2 separate regions of the Homo sapiens genome follow, and region 2 is linked to region 1. The links come from fine-mapping of genetic effects on gene expression. Tissue or cell type: whole blood. Region 1 holds a variant in brackets; the other region holds the start of a gene. All regions are shown on one strand. Distances are between the middles of the regions.

Region 1 (8,100 bases):
CAAGCGTCAGTAGCACCGCATGCCTGGGGTCTGGCTCCTAAGCCCATGCTCTTTCAATGGCCCAAACATGGAACGCGTGGAAGATTTGAGTTAGAAGAGAACTTGGCAGCTGCCAAAGCAGCCTCTCATTCTACGGAGGAAGCACCTGAGACCCAGAAAGAGGAAGGGCCTCGTCCAAGGTCACAAGGCACTGACCGTGAAGCCAGGAGGGGCTGGCATGGGGCAGTTTCTTGGCAGAGTTGGCTGAGTGGTTTATTTGCTACAGGTTTGCTTGGAAGCGTTCTTTGCCGAAGAGTTTAGGAGCGATCGTGACTGGTTAGTGCAAGCCATTCCGCCGGGTCTGGATGGTGAGTCATGCCAGTGTGTCCTGTGCGAACACGGACTACCCGCCTGCTCCCGGCATCTTGCCCTCCCCAGGACCCCTGAAACGGAGGCTAAACGATTCACCCAAGGTCACCAAATACAAGAGAAAAGGAGTGTGGCCAGGCACGGTGGCTCATGCCTGTAATCCTAGCACTTTGGGAGGCTGAGGTGTGTGGATCACCTGAGGTCAGGAGTTCGAGACCAGCCTGGCCAACATGGTGAAACCCCATCTCTACCAAAATACAAAAAATTAGCCGGGTGCGGTGGTGGGTGCCTGTAGTCCCAGTTACTTTGGAGGCTGAGGCAGGAGATTCACTTGAACCTGGGGGGCAGATGTTGCAGTGAGCCGAGATCATGCCATTGCACTATAGCCTGGGCAAAAGAGCAAAACTTCATCAAAAAAAGAAAAAAAGAGGGCCGGGCGTGGTGGCTGACGCCTGTAATCCCAGCACTTTGGGAGGCTGAGACGGGCGGATCGCGAGGTCAGGAGTTCGAGACCAGCCTGGCTAACGTGGTGAAACCCTGTCTCTACTAAAAATACAAAAAATTAGCCAGGAGTGGTGGCATGCGTCTGTAGTCCCAGCTAGTCAGGAAGCTGAGGCAGGAGAATCGCTTGAACCCGGGAGGTGGAGGTTGTGGTGAGCCGCTGAGATCGCGCCACTGTACTCCAGCCTGGGCCATAGAGCGAGACTCCATCTTAAAAAAAAAAAAAAAATAGAAACAGAGTGGAAATCTGAACCCGTGTGGCTCGGGATGGTCTCTACTCTCTCATCTTGAAAGACCCCATCAGCTAAGACAAGGATCCAGTTGCATTTGGGAAATTTGAGGCTCTACTTACAAGTGTTACTGCTGGTTCGCCGCGCACAGGAACGCTGAGAACACCATCACCCTGGCCTCATCGAACGACTCCAGAGAGGGGCCCACATCTGCTCAACCCAGGAGAAAGCTGAGGTCTTCCAAGTGTTCTTCCCCAACATCTTAGGTCTGTTCCCACTGACTCCAATCTGAAGAGGGTGATGTTCCCTGCTGTCTGTTCTCACTTTGATCAGGACCACTGTGGACTGGCGTGTACCCACCTCTTTTTGTAGAAACTCATCCCAATCCCTGAGCCTAATGGTTAAAGTTCAACCCATGCCTTTCCCAATGGGGTGGGTCCACAGGGACTAGTGGCCTCTGCTGGGGACAGGCCGCTCAGGTCACTGGGCTTTGATCTGGCAAACAGGAGCACAAGTCTGCCAGGGAGCTACAAAAACTTTACGGTGGGGCTGTGTGAGCACCAGGGGATTACGCGGGGGGTGGGGGCGAGTGGATGAGAGCAGAGTCCCGGTTTCTTTCATGGGGTTGACCCTGTGGTTTGGGGCTCCGGGACACTCAGTACCAGGCACAAAGCCACGGTGTGCGTGTGAGGAGGGACTGACAGGCAGGCTCAGAAGTACAGGAATGGGACTGGCCAAAGCGCTGCTGGGTAGACAGGCTGGGGGAGCAGGGAGCTTCTGTCCACCCACCAGGGCTCCTGAAGTCACAGAGTCCTTGCTTGCCTCAAAATAGGTGCGATTTGATTCATTCATCCTCCCCGGAAACAAGATGCCCTGTGGCTTGGGACACTTCCAGGTCATGCCGGCTGTCTTGGCATAAACATTAACGGGGCCACCTTTCTTTCTTTCTTTTCTTTTCTTTTTTTTTTAGGCAGAGTTTCACTTCTGTTGCCTGGGCTAGAGTGCAATGGCGTGATCTCAGCTCACTGCAACCTCTGCCTCCCAGGTTCAAGCAATTCTCCTGCCTCAGCCTCCTGAGTAGCTGGGATTACAGTTGCCCACCACCATGCCCAGCTTCGCCGTCCAAGAGCCTGGGGCCGTGGGGGGCGGGGCTGCCTGCTATCGGCCCCGCCCCGCCGACAGGACCCGCCTCTCTCCCCAGGCCCGGCGGGGCCGACCCCGCCTCTCGCTCCCAGCTTGCCGTACGACAGCGGCGGCGCGGCGGGCGGAGCCGGGAGGCGGGGAAGCAGTGGCCGTGTGAGCGTGAGGAGCTGCCGCCACCGCCTGCTCCTCGTCCTCCTCGTCCTCCGGGGCCCCAGCGTCGTGGGCCGCGCACGGCCCTGGAAGAGACGTCGCCTCGCCTTCATCCGCCTCTCTCACCGCGCCGCTCCCTCGTCCTGCCCTGCGGGCTCAGGCGGAACCCGGAACGGCCGTCCTCTTCCCCCGCCCTCCGCCGCCGCCTCCTCCTCCTCCTTCTCGGCTTCCTCCTCAGCCCCGGGCCGGAGCGGGGTGTCGGCGGCGGCCGGTTCGGGCGGCGGCGCTTGGCCATGTCGTGTCGGGGAAGGTAATGAGCCGCAGAGCCCCGGGGTCTCGGCTGAGCAGCGGCGGCACCAACTATTCGCGGAGCTGGAATGACTGGCAACCCAGGTGGGTGACCGGCCCGGGACCCCGCCCCGACCTCCCGGGCTCCGCCTCGGGCGGGCCGAGGCCTAGGGCCGCGGGGCTGGGAGGCGCGGCCTAGGCCCTCCACCCACCGGAGCCGGGCGCGGCTTCCTGGGTCTCCTCCTCCCCGGCTAGGGGAGGAAGGCCGCGGGGAGGCGAGGCCTAAGTGCCTCTCCCCTCCCTGCTTGTTCAGCCCGGGGCTGAAGCCGAGCCCCGGGGCTCCCGGCGGTGGCACTGACCTAGGGTCGGGACCAGGAGGTGAGAAAGAGGCGGGGGTGGTGGGGGGGGCATTCCACTTACCGCCTCCCCCTGACCCCGAGTTGGGAGATCCTGAGAGTCCAGGACCCTCCCTGTTACTCATTCACTTTCTCGGTTCCCCAGTCTTTCAGCCGCCACGTGAGAGCTCTTGTAGCCTCTGTTCCTTTCTGTGACCCCCACATGTTAATATTGAAAAAACCAAAACAAAACTCCAGCCAAGGCATTGCTCTGACTTTAGGCAGAACATTCATTAGTGGAGCATGAGATGAGATTGTGTGACTGTTGATGGGATCGACCCACTCTGGTCTTGGGCGATGGAAGTTTTCCCTAAGTGCAAGGCCGGTTACTCTGGTGAATCGTAATTCATACCTGGACACTTGAGTGAACTCTTTGGGCACCCACTTAGAAGTCTAGAGAATTTCCTCTTTTATGGAGGATTTGATCTCAGACCGTTTTGGGGCTTAGTTAGATTTGAATATATTAGGAACATTAACTTTTTAAATAAATGTAATTTCCTATCTTTTTGATCAATGGGGGGAGGGTAGCTGTGCCTAATTTAGGATTGATTTATTCTAACCTCTCTTACTAAATAAATGCTTGTATTCAGAGTCTGTTTGGAATTTAACCCAATGCTTAGAACTCCTTAAATATACAGAAATATATTTTAGGGGCAATTGATTCATGGAACTCTCCTGCTTTGGAGCACAATTGTATTATAATTGTCCGGAAACTGGCCAGATAATGTAGAACGCACAAGTTGTTGAGAAGCCCTTTTGTTTCCTGATAGTTACATGTAATTCCAGCAGTATTTGGAAATAATTTGCTAAGATGTTAGAATGTAACATTTGAAGACTCATTAGAAAAATCAATAAAATTATCTTTGGCTAATGGGTAGTACACATCTTAGTCTGTTTAATATGCCTTTCCAAAAAAAACTGTGTCTGTTGAGAATTGGTGTATATAACTAGATGACTTTAATAATTAGTGCCTGAGTCTAGAATTGAGATGTTTAGTCGTAAAAAAAAATATTGTTCGATAAACAGCGTTGGCTTGTCTTGTACCACTTAAGAGTTTGTGAGTGCTTTAAATAAAATTAGTTAAGTATTTTTCTTCCTATGATTGACATGCTTAGTTTTGCCTTTTTATTGAAATGTGTGAAATTTGATTATCTGGCATCTAACAAATCAGGTGGTAAATGAATGACAATGGATTTTCTATTATTTTTCAGTATTGTGATCAGTATAAGTATATAAGAGAATTTAGTAACCTTTTAGAAGAATAAAGTGCCTTCCCAAATAGTCCTACAGCTTTTGTAAAGTGTAAATTGTAGTTTATAGTTCTAAATAAATAGAGAAGAGTCGCAGCCACGTGCTAGGGCCAGCTGACTTCATTGCTGACAGGTATGAAGCCAAATGGCTTATGTAGTTATGGAATATGTACATGAGCTATTAATAAATATTATCCATGTTGTTTCTTTCAAGTGCTTTATTTCTCGGCTCTGGGGAGGGGCGATGTGGGAAGGGAGGAGCTTACAAGAAAGCTTGCAAGGTTTCTTTGAAGCTGTGCTTTTTGTAGGAAAGTTT[C/T]AGGATGTAACGCCTTGGTAGACGATACTGTGATACATTTGGTTACAGGGAGTAACAGTTTGTTAGGATGTTGGAAAGATTTGATTTTCTCCTGTTGTAGAGGGAACAGGGAAGTGTGGACATACCCCATAGCATAACTTGATTTGTTGCTAAGATTGTCATAGCTGATTTGTTAGTCAATAAAAATACCTGGGGTGTTTGCCAAGTCATAAATTTTTATTAGTTAAATTTGAGGTGATTCCGTCCCCTATTCCGAAAGATGACAGACTCCAGGTAACTGACGGAATGGATCTTGATCTTGCTTCTTACTTAAATGAAGGTTTAGAACATCTTCAGATGCAGGCACATTTATTATGGTTCATCTGAATAATTTTGGTGAAAATTTTTTTGCCTCTTATGTACCATTTTGTCCCTGGTGTTTTGGTTCTGTTTTCCTTGATGTAGGCTTTTTTTTTTTTTGTCTTCCTGAGATGGAGTCTTGCTCTGTCTCCCAGGCTGGAGTGCAGTGGTGTAATCTCGACTCACTGCAGCCTCTGCCTCCTGGTTACAGGGAAAAATTCTCCTGCCTCAGCCTCCTGAGTAGCTGGGATTACAGGCGTCCAGCTAATTTTTGTATTTTTAGTAGAGACGGGATTCCACCATGTTGGCCGGCCTGTTCTTGGACTCCTGACTCAGGTGATCCGCCTGCTTTGGCCTCCCAAAGTGCTGGGATTACAGGTGTAAGTCACCGCACTCAGCCGATTTAGGCTTTTGAAAAAGCAATACTTGTTGATTTCTTTTAGTGTTAGTTTGCCAGTTGGTGTGGAAAATGACTGTTGAGTCAATTTTGACCACACATGATACTTCACACATACTGACAAGAAGTGTTCCAGGTGGCTGAATACGTGAATGTCATATGGCAAGAGAGCAAACCCGTGTTCCATAGAAGCATACCTCCAACAGTAAGCATTTATATGGCACTGGCTTATAGTCTTCCTTTTCATTCACTGTGCTCTCAGTCAACTCTTCTGTCAATTTTTTTGAGACAGGGTCTTGCTGTGTCACCCAGGCTGGAGTGCAGCGGCACAGATACTTGGCTTACTGCAGTCTCGACCTCCCAGGCTCAAGCCTCCTGCCTCAGCATCCACAAGTAGCTGGGGCTACAGGCGCTTGCCAACAGCCTGGCTCATTTTTGTATTTTTTGTAGAGATGGGGTTTTCACCACGTTGCCCAGGCTGGTCTTGAACCCCTGAACTCAAGCAATCTGCCCACCTTCAGCCTCCCAAAGTGTTGAGATTACAGGTGTGAGCCACCGCACCCGACATTTAAGAATGGTTAATAGGCCGGGGGCAGTGGCTCACGCCTGTAATCCCAGCACTTTGGGAGGCTGAGGTGGGTGGATCACCTGAGGTCACGAGTTCAAGACCAGCCTGGCCAACCGACATGGTGAAACCCCGTCTCTACTAAAAAAAATAAATAAATAAATTAGCGGGATGTGGTGGTGCATGCCTGTAATCCCAGTTACTCGGGAGGCTGAGGCAGGAGAATCACTTGAACCTGAGAGGCGGAGGTTGTAGTGAGCGACATCACACCACTGCACTCCAGCCTGGGCAACAGAGCAAGACTCCTTCTCAAAAAAATAAAAATAAAAAATTAAAAAAAGAATGGTTAAACAAATGAGTGGTCTTAGGTCAGTTGTATTATTTGAAATCTGTGGGTTCCTCAGGCATAAAGTTGAGAAGGTTTTGGGAACCACTGGATGCCTCTGGGTTTTTTCATATGAAGAAACAGGGGTGGTGGCTTCTTAGAACAAAGGGATATCTGACCTATGGAGGTTGCCCTCTTTACTCCTCTTCCCTAAAAAAATGACCTATCATTGCCAATAGCTAAAGTCTGTCATTTTTTCCACCTTAGTTTGGAAGATAATCTTCTAGTATCAATCAAGACAGAGATCAGAATGATGTGTTTTAAAATTAAATGTGTAATTCATAATTGTACATTTTAATATTCTAAAGTGACATTGATTAATTTGACATTGGAGTCAAATAGATTGATTAATTCAACAAAAGAGAAGGCATTCAAGTCAACAGAAAACAAGTAGATTTTACTTTTCCACTCGGGGTATTAGGACATTAATTGTGTAATTGGTCTTACTTGTTTAGTAGTAGATCTGTATTGAGTGTCTTACTGTGCCCAAACTTAGGATCTTTCTGTATTTCTAAAAGGATGAAACTGTATAATAAAAACACCTTCCAATTTTGGTAGATTGTAGACAGAGCAGAGTATTCAAAAGTATACACATCTTCTCTATTGTGAAAGACCAAAAAATGGAAATATGTTGTGAAATTAGAAAAGCTGTATACTAGTATGTCTGATGTTGTGAGAAGCTGGATTTTTGAAACCAGAGTTGTCTATTCAGCCTTTTATCAGTCTGTAGTAAGTTTGATGTCCATAGGTACATAATATAGGGAAATACATAAAGGATAAAATTAAGTGAAGTTACATATTTTATACGTATTAGGTGGGTGCAAAAGTAATTGCAGTTTTGGCAAAAACCGCAGTTACTTCACACCAGTCTAATTTTAAATGGAACTAGAGTCAAATAGAATTTAGCGATTGCCAGTTCTGTTCCACAGATTTCAAAGTACACTAAGGAAAATTTCAGCAAATTGTGTATGGCAGTTTTACTTGGAGGAGAGTAAAACAGCCATAATAAACTAAAAAATAAAAATTAAAACTAAAGGAACGTTTGTTTTTATGTTTTTCTTTTCTTTTCTTTCCTCTTTTTTGAGATATGCTCTTGCTCTGTTGCCCAGGCTGGAGTGCAGTGGTGCAGTCACTGCTCACTGCAGCCTTGACTTCCTGGGCTCTGGGAATCCTCCCGCCTTAGCCTCCTGAGTAGCTGGGACCACAGGTGCATACCACCACACCTGACTAATTTATTTATTTTTCCTCTCTCTCTCTCTCTTTTTTTTTTTGAGACAGAGTTTTACTTTGTCGCCCAGGCTGGAGTATAGTGGCACAATCTCAGCTCACTTGCAACCTCCACCTCCTGGTTCAAGTGATTCTCCTGTCTCAGCCTCCCAAGTAGCTGGGAATACAGGTGCATGCCACTATGCCCGGCTAATTTTTGTGTTTTTAGTGGAGATAGGATTTCACCATGTTGGCCAGGCTGGTCTTGAACTGCTGACCTCAGGTGATCCACCCGCTTCGGCCTCCCAAAGTGCTGGGATTCCAGGCGTGAGCCACCACGCCTGGCCGCCTCTCTCTTTTTCTGAAACAGAGTCTCACTTCATTGCCCAGGTTGGAGTGCAGTGGAACCATCTCAGCTCACTGCAGCCTCCACCTCCCAGGCTCAATAAGTCCTCCTACCTCACCCTCCCAATAGCTGGGACCACAGGTGCATGTCACCACCCCCAGCTACTTTTTTTTGTTTTCTGTAGAGACGGGGTTTTGCCATGCTGCCTGGGCTGGTCTTGAATACCTAGGCTCAAGTGATC
Region 2 (8,100 bases), 21 kb before region 1:
TTCTGTGAAGGTACTTCTGTGGCCCTCCAGGCCATGAGGGGCTGGGGTTTCTGTGGTGGCTACCAGGGGTTCTGTCATATTTCTGGTGGTCCATGGACAAAAGGTACTTGTTGGGTGGAGGTTTCACCATAAGCAGCTGGGGGCTGGAGAAACAGGCCTGATTTTAGTTCTGCCACCAACCCAGAGCCTGCTCTCCCTGCCAAGATCCTGAGACTGATAGCAGCTCATGTACTTTCACAGGGCCTCAGTTTCCTCATCTGAGATTGGCAGTAGATGGGGATGGGGGCTGTGAGTCTATCCTGATCAGGACAGGCTGAGATCTTGGGTCTGACCACCCCATGCTCTCTACTCTCCACCCCTGCAGGCGTTAAGATCATCTTCCGGGTGGCCCTGGTCCTGCTGCGCCACACGCTGGGCTCAGTGGAGAAGCTGCGCTCCTGCCAAGGCATGTATGAGACCATGGAGCAGCTGCGTAACCTGCCCCAGCAGTGCATGCAGGAAGACTTCCTGGTGCATGAGGTAGGCCTGTGCCCTCAACGCAGCCCCTGCCTGCCTCAGCCCGCTCCCACCCTCAGCTCCATTCTGGTACGCATTTCCTCTCTGTGCAGGTGACCAATCTGCCGGTGACAGAAGCACTGATTGAGCGGGAGAATGCAGCCCAGCTCAAGAAGTGGCGGGAAACGCGGGGGGAGCTGCAGTATCGGCCCTCACGGCGACTGCATGGGTCCCGGGCCATCCACGAGGAGCGCCGGCGGCAACAGCCACCCCTGGGCCCCTCCTCCAGCCTCCTCAGCCTCCCTGGCCTCAAGAGCCGAGGCTCCCGGGCAGCTGGAGGGGCCCCGTCCCCGCCGCCCCCCGTCCGCAGAGCCAGTGCTGGGCCTGCCCCAGGGCCTGTGGTCACTGCTGAGGGACTGCATCCATCCCTTCCCTCACCCACTGGCAATAGCACCCCCTTGGGTTCCAGCAAGGAGACCCGGAAGCAGGAGAAGGAGCGGCAGAAACAGGAGAAGGAGCGGCAGAAACAGGAGAAGGAGCGGGAGAAGGAGCGGCAGAAGCAGGAGAAAGAGCGAGAGAAGCAGGAAAAGGAGCGAGAGAAGCAGGAGAAGGAGCGGCAGAAGCAGGAGAAGAAGGCTCAAGGCCGGAAGCTTTCGCTGCGTCGAAAGGCAGATGGGCCCCCAGGCCCCCATGATGGTGGGGACAGGCCCTCAGCCGAGGCCCGGCAGGACGCTTACTTCTGACCTCTGCCCTGGGGCTGGACTGCATGGCCCCCCTCTTTCCCTCAGCCAAGAACAGGCCTGGCCCAAGGTGCCACCCCCTAGCACCTTGTCAGGCTGTCCCTTGCTGGGGAAAGTGGCTTGGTTCCCCATCTCCTCGCCAGCTGCTGATCCCTACACGGGCAGGACAGATGGGCAGCTGCAAATGAGTCTGGAGCCTCTCATCTCCCATGAGGCTCAGCTGGGGTCTCTGTCGCTCCTGCCCCAGTTCCCTCTGGGTCCCCTCCTAGGTGCTGTCCTGAATGGCCCGTTGTCATCCCAGGGGTGACTCCTGGTGATGGGAGTCAGCAGTTTCAGATTCTTACACTCCATAGCTCCCCTTACCATGAGGTGGAGCTGGCTTCCTTTTCCCTGTCTTCAGCCCTCCCTGTCTCCCCCACTTCCTGGCCAGGGCTCTCATTCTGGACCTGTGTTGTAATTGTGTACAGAGGATGGCGTTGGCCTGGGGTGGGGGTGCTCGCTTTGTCTTCTGTCCTTTGGTTCTCCTTCCATAATGCTCCTGTACCCAGTTTATTTAAGGGGACATGCACTGGAATAGGAAATGTCCCCCATCTCCCTTCCTGCACCCTGCTGTGCTCCCTCCAAACCCACCTTGCTCTGTGTTCTCAGGCCCCCCTGCTTTTGTCTCACCAGGACCCATACCTTTCACCTTGTTCCCTTCCACCCCTCCAGTTAGTCCCTATCTGGGTAAGGGTCTTCCCTTGAGCTCCAGGGGGTGGAACCCAATGTTTACATTCTCTTCTGTCTCTGCCCCCACCCCATGCAGCGCTTTGAGGAATTGGAAAAGAACCTGCTGTTGTACCTGGGCCTGTTTTCTGCCTTGTTATTTGATGAGGGGGGGATGGGGTAAGGACGAGGGAGGGAGGGACAGAGCCAGGACCTGGGTCTCTGTTGAAGCAGTCTGCTGTCTTGGCAAGTAGGTACCTCTTAGCTTTGGGTCCATCTCTCAGTCACTCATCAGACACTGGTTGAGCTCCTGCTCCATCTTTGCCTGGGATCTGCTGTCTCCATTGTCACTGGCTGCCTGGAGCTCTCTATGTACCACGTGCAGCACCCGGATCTCCTTCCCAAAGTGCTCATGCAACTCCTGGAAGCTGGAGGGGGTACTCACAGTGGCTAGAAAGCCACTGTCCTCTGGGGATGAGATGGGTTCTTGGCCAGTTGCCTGGCACAGCTCCCAGTATTGGGTTTTGGTGGGGGGGGAGGGGGGACAGCAGCCCAGCCAGCCGCCTCCAGCTCGCGCCAGCCAGTGCCCACAGCCAAGTCTCCAGCTCTTCCTGGGTTTCTGCAGCCAGCTTGTAGGCCCGCCCACCTGTGCCCTCCACCCCAGGGGTCAGGATGGTAAAGGCATAGGGTTCTGCAGCCTTAAGGTGTGGTTCCACCTGGCAGTTCTCTAACAGGATGAGGCTCAGGGGTGCATGGTCGGTCTAGTGTTCTAGGTAGAAGAGGAGGTTTCCTCGGAGGATGAACCATCGGCGCTGGTAGCTGAGGTTTCGGGTCCCCTTCTTTAGCAGAATGCCTTCCTGGTCTGGGGCCTGTGTTCTGTAACCATGGAAGAAACTGAGCACGGACTTTCTGTGCAGTTTTCATCGTGATCCAATATGGGAGGAAACCCCTAGGGAGAGAGAAGTGGCCCATCTAGTTGCCTGGGGGAAGAGTAGGGGAACTCTCATGCTGTCCTCGTCTGGCTTCAGCACGTGCTGCCTGCGCACAGTCTTGGCTTAGGGGGATGCAGGCTCCGAGTGTCAAGAGCTAGGGGTCCCAGCACAGGGGCTGATCCCCGCTACCTCCCCAATTCCCCCTTCTGCTTGGGCCACATTCCGCTACCTGGGCAGGAGTTGCTAGGCCCTGTTTGCTCAGGGGGGCTTCATGCTGCAGAGAGGCACTGTTGCCCTTTTCCAGGCCTACCTGAGAGCAGGGCACAAGGGGCTTCTGGCCTGAGTACTGGCGCCAATGCCACCTCTCCAGTGATGGCTCTCCCACCTCAGAAACCAGGAACTCGCCCAGGGTATGGGCGTGGGACAAATTATTTCCCCTGGGTCCTAAAGGGAGGTGTGTTCAGAAAGTGCCCGGAGAGCCGTCCAGGGGCCCCAGGCTGGCCATCGGGAGAGTCAGGCTTCCCCTCGGAGAGGCAAGGCTGCACCTCTCAGGCTAGGAGGGCTGACCACTGGACCATAGGAATGGGAAGGCAGGATTTCTAACGAGACGGTAGGGGCGCTGAGCCCTTAGCCCTGGGGGAAGGGTGACTTGAACCCAGGACAGGAAAACGGAGCAGCAACCCACTGACCCTGCTCGGACTTTGCCCCTCCATCCTGACCCTGGGCGGCCCTTTAAGCAGATGCGCTCCAGTTTTTCTCCAGAGCCTCTACTGCTTGAATGACGGACTCGAAGCTACTTCCGGCCATTTCTCACGCCCAGTCAGAGTCCAGGAATTCTTAGGTTCCCTCTTCTCACCATTGTCCTCCCACGTGACTGACGTCACTTCTGGCGGGAGAGAGGGTGGAGGCGTCTTCGCTCGCTTATCGCATACTTCCGCCCGCTCTTCCAGTTAGTTCCCTAACCCGAGTGAAGCCACTTCCGGGCTTCCCGGGCGCCTTCCGCAGTCCTCTTCCGGGTGATGGCGGCCGGGTGCCCCGGATGTAGCCCTGGCGCAAGCATCTCTTCTTTTTTCCACCTCGCCTTCCGCGGATTCCCAGGTGAGTGCGCGAGGGTGGGACCGCCCGAATCCCCGTGGCCCTCTAAGTTGTACACAGCCCGGGACAGTTGGGGCTCACCACACGGAATTGGGAGTTCGGAGCAGGGAGGAACGGGGTGGCGAGAGCGCCAGGTCCTGGGTCTGCCGGGGCCCGGCGAGCTCCGAGAGAGCCAGGGTAGAGAGCGGGGGTCAGCCCGTGGAGCCGGTGGCGCGCAGACTGCGGGGGCTGGAGTTGGGGGCGGTCACGTGGTGAAGCCTGTCTCCTTTCAGCCAGGGTCGGGGGATCCAGAGGGTCCGCTCCTCCGTCCCCGCCCCGTTTAACTCGCGGATGCTAGACCCAAGTCCTGGAGGCCTCCTGGCTGCCAGCTTCCTTTCGGCCCCTGCTTTTGTGCTCCCTCCGCTCCCAAACTGTACCTGTCACAGACCAGGAAAAATGTTTGCTGTGCTGCGTCTGTTGGCGAGTCCCCTCCTCACCCGGTTCCCTTCCTCTGCATCCTTTCCTCAGCTTGAGAAACACCTCTTTGCCCCGTCATGCCAAAGAGGAAAGTGACCTTCCAAGGCGTGGGAGATGAGGAGGATGAGGATGAAATCATTGTCCCCAAGAAGAAGGTGAGGGGGCCAGACTGCTTTGTGTGGGGGAAAGAGGAGCTAGAAGCCTGAAGAGGAAGAAAGCTGGCGGGAGAGGGGCGGGGCGGGCAGGCAGAGAAAAGCCTAGTTTTTTCAGGTTCTCTGAGGAATGGGTTGGGAGCGTCTTTAGTGTGGCTCCTGAAATATTTGGGGAAGTAGTCGAGATCCTGAAATATTTGGGGAATATTTGGGTCCAGATCCGGAAGTATTTGGGGAGGTAGCCAGTAACCTGCATTTCTCAACTTTCTGGCTCCTGCTCACAGCTGGTGGACCCTGTGGCTGGGTCAGGGGGTCCTGGGAGCCGCTTTAAAGGCAAACACTCTTTGGATAGCGATGAGGAGGAGGATGATGATGATGGGGGGTCCAGCAAATATGACATCTTGGCCTCAGAGGATGTAGAAGGTAAGCTGTACCCAAGAATACACTCTGCTGGAAAAACAAGTAGGGGCCTCTGGTGGTGTGGAGCGAGGGAGGCTCCGGTCTCTTTTTTCCATGCCTGGAAAAGGGCACCTGTGTCTTTGGTGCAGGTCAGGAGGCAGCCACACTCCCCAGCGAGGGGGGTGTTCGGATCACACCCTTTAACCTGCAGGAGGAGATGGAGGAAGGCCACTTTGATGCCGATGGCAACTACTTCCTGAACCGGGATGCTCAGATCCGAGACAGCTGGCTGGACAACATTGACTGGGTGCGGCCCAGGGGCTGGCGTGGCTGGGGCCTGGGAGTGGCAGATGCTGGGCCTGCTCCCGTGGCAGTTGGTGGGAAATCACTCCATCTTCCCATTACAGGTGAAGATCCGGGAGCGGCCACCTGGCCAGCGCCAGGCCTCAGACTCGGAGGAGGAGGACAGCTTGGGCCAGACCTCAATGAGTGCCCAAGCCCTCTTGGAGGGACTTTTGGAGCTCCTATTGCCTAGAGAGACAGTGGCTGGGGCACTGAGGCGTCTGGGGGCCCGAGGAGGAGGCAAAGGGAGAAAGGGGCCTGGGCAACCCAGTTCCCCTCAGCGCCTGGACCGGCTCTCCGGGTTGGCCGACCAGATGGTGGCCCGGGGCAACCTTGGTGTGTACCAGGAAACAAGGGAACGGTTGGCTATGCGTCTGAAGGGTTTGGGGTGTCAGACCCTAGGACCCCACAATCCCACACCCCCACCCTCCCTGGACATGTTCGCTGAGGAGTTGGCGGAGGAGGAACTGGAGACCCCAACCCCTACCCAGAGAGGAGGTGAGCTTGGAGGACAGAGGAGGGGGCAGTGGGTAGGAAGTGAGACACTGGAGGCCAAATGGCTTTGCCTGTTATTTTAGAAGCAGAGTCGCGGGGAGATGGTCTGGTGGATGTGATGTGGGAATATAAGTGGGAGAACACGGGGGATGCCGAGCTGTATGGGCCCTTCACCAGCGCCCAGATGCAGGTGAGCTGCTTTCTCCCTCCTCCTGCCTTGTCCCTGCTTCCCCCACTCCTGTCAGTTGTTCCCCAGCTCTGCCCTCTCCTTGCAGACCTGGGTGAGTGAAGGCTACTTCCCGGACGGTGTTTATTGCCGGAAGCTGGACCCCCCTGGTGGTCAGTTCTACAACTCCAAACGCATTGACTTTGACCTCTACACCTGAGCCTGCTGGGGGCCCAGTTTGGTGGGCCCTTCTTTCCTGGACTTTGTGGAGGAGGCACCAAGTGTCTCAGGCAGCGAGGAAATTGGAGGCCATTTTTCAGTCAATTTCCCTTTCCCAATAAAAGCCTTTAGTTGTGTACTGGGGCCTTGGCTGTGCTGATGGCCAGAAGCCAGGGGCCTTCTCCACAGTCCCTTTGGACTTGTCTTGGTCCCTGAGTACTCCCATGAAGATCCTTCTTGGAGGTGCCTGTCAGGTATCCTGTGGCCTCCCTGCCTGGACTCTGCTTGCCGTGTAAACACCCCCAACTGCGCTGCTCTGTGCTCCTCTCCCAGGTTTCTTGTTCGATTCCTCTTAGGTCTTTGGCTTTCAGGACCTCAGATTCTTTATCCTTGTAGCCACCAGAGGACAGAGCCCCAGAAGTGGATGTTTTAGGCCCAGAAGGACCAGGGCATCGAGAAGACATTGGGACCCTGTTGGGGGTGAGCATGGAACCCTCTTACTCTCGCTTCACCCTCTCAAGCTCCTTAGATGCTGGGCAGAAGTGGGATGAGTGGCCCAAGACCGAGATCCCTAAGGTTCTGAGAGCCAGTGTCTTCCCTAATCTGGCTTTCCTCTATCCTTGCCGTCGTTCCCACAGCCCTTCAGTGAAGTGCAAACTCAGTGGCCAAGTGTGGGCCAAGTGTGCATTGTACTGGCACAGAGAGGGGCAGTGACTCACTGGAGATCACAGGAATCAAAGGGCTGGCCCAGACCCAGTGGGCTCCTTTCCCAGACCTTTCTTGGCACAAAGCCTTTGCTGCCTGGCCTTGGAGGCCCTGCGGCCTACATTCTCTGGACCCCACTATGTGCCTGGCACAGGGCTAGTGCCTTGAGGAAACTGAGGTAGCTGGGTTGGTCCCCTTCCAGGAATTCAGAGTCTGGTGGCAGGGGCATGGGAAATAGACAGATGTAATTCTATAGCCTGGGCCTGGCACCCTCCACCTCCACGCCCCACCAGCATTGCCTTACGCCTCCCTTGCCCCACGTTAGATGGTTTCTTCCGGTTTTGCACTCTGGCTGCCCCTTGGAGTCTCCTGGGGAGCTGTAATATCTCTTTGGAGATTCAGATTGAGCTGGTCTAGGTTGTGGCCCAGGCATTGGGCATTTTGGAAGCCCCCAGGTGTTTTCAGCTTGCAGCCAGGCCGAGAGAGAGCCCCTGAGTCAGATCCCCATGGTTTAGGCACACCTAGCGGGAGGGGTGGCTCCTGGACCCCACCGTGGTTGGAGAGCTGAGCATGTGTGTGGCTTTAGTGGGGTCTGTTAGTTATGGGGGTCTGGGCACTGGAGCTGCAGGACACTTGGGATCCCAGGTCAGAAAGGGCCAGATGAGCAACTAGGAAAGACTTGGGGGCCAGGGCGGAGTGGGGTCACCTGACACTCTTGTGAGGCCCCTTCTAGTGCCTGCTCACACCGGAATTTCATTCACTCCAAGAAGCCATCAGGGGTAAGATACCTTCCTTTAAACGTCACTAAGAAAGAAGAGGCCTGCCGGTGACACAGTAAGATGCCATTGATCTAAAGATGCGTCTTGATTTCAGAAAGGTCCGGAAGTGGAAAGCAGGTTTCAGGGCTGCTGAGGTACAGGGTTCTCCTGTAGGCCCCAGGGATGGTCTCAGGGGTGCTGAGTGCGTGCGTGGTAAATGGATGGAGCCCAGGGGCGCCTCCTGCCAGTGTCCTCCAGGCACTCAAACCTAGCCCTTCTGAAGCCGACCTCACGTGACCTCACAGCCCCTCCTGAAGGCGCCTCACTGATGACGGTGGGTGGAATAACAGCCCCCAGAGATGTCCAGGTTTGGAACCCCAGGACGTGGGAAAGTGTTACCTTGCGTGGCAAAAGGGACCCGGCGCCTGTGCTTCAGTTCAG

Evidence for each region. PIP is the estimated chance that this variant, and not a neighbour inherited with it, causes the effect.
Region 2: it holds the start of CD2BP2, and the variant in region 1 is fine-mapped to the expression of CD2BP2 in whole blood (INTERVAL, PIP above 0.99).

Annotation. Positions count from the first base shown.
Region 1 is chr16:30,329,640-30,337,739 of GRCh38, reverse strand. It overlaps the pseudogene SMG1P5 and the pseudogene LOC100421031. Among named protein-coding and RNA genes, the nearest start is that of CD2BP2, 22 kb to the left of the region's middle. RefSeq lists an enhancer at 1,809-1,908 and a silencer at 2,139-2,958. The variant C/T (reference allele first, on the strand shown) is at 4,622.
Region 2 is chr16:30,351,082-30,359,181 of GRCh38, reverse strand. It overlaps CD2BP2 (CD2 cytoplasmic tail binding protein 2), which reads left to right and starts at 3,874. Exons shown (of 7, transcript NM_006110.3): 1 at 3,874-3,970; 2 at 4,475-4,578; 3 at 4,860-4,998; 4 at 5,124-5,281; 5 at 5,382-5,814; 6 at 5,895-6,001; 7 at 6,087-8,100. The coding sequence starts at 4,501. The coding sequence ends at 6,197. TBC1D10B (TBC1 domain family member 10B) reads left to right here. Exons shown (of 9, transcript NM_015527.4): 7 at 1-10; 8 at 365-519; 9 at 609-2,080. The coding sequence ends at 1,238. It overlaps CD2BP2-DT (CD2BP2 divergent transcript), which reads right to left and starts at 3,748. Exons shown (of 2, transcript NR_184233.1): 1 at 3,562-3,748; 2 at 1-2,889. RefSeq lists enhancers at 3,703-3,762, 3,843-3,902, 2,957-3,908, 3,640-3,934, 3,625-4,824 and 1 more.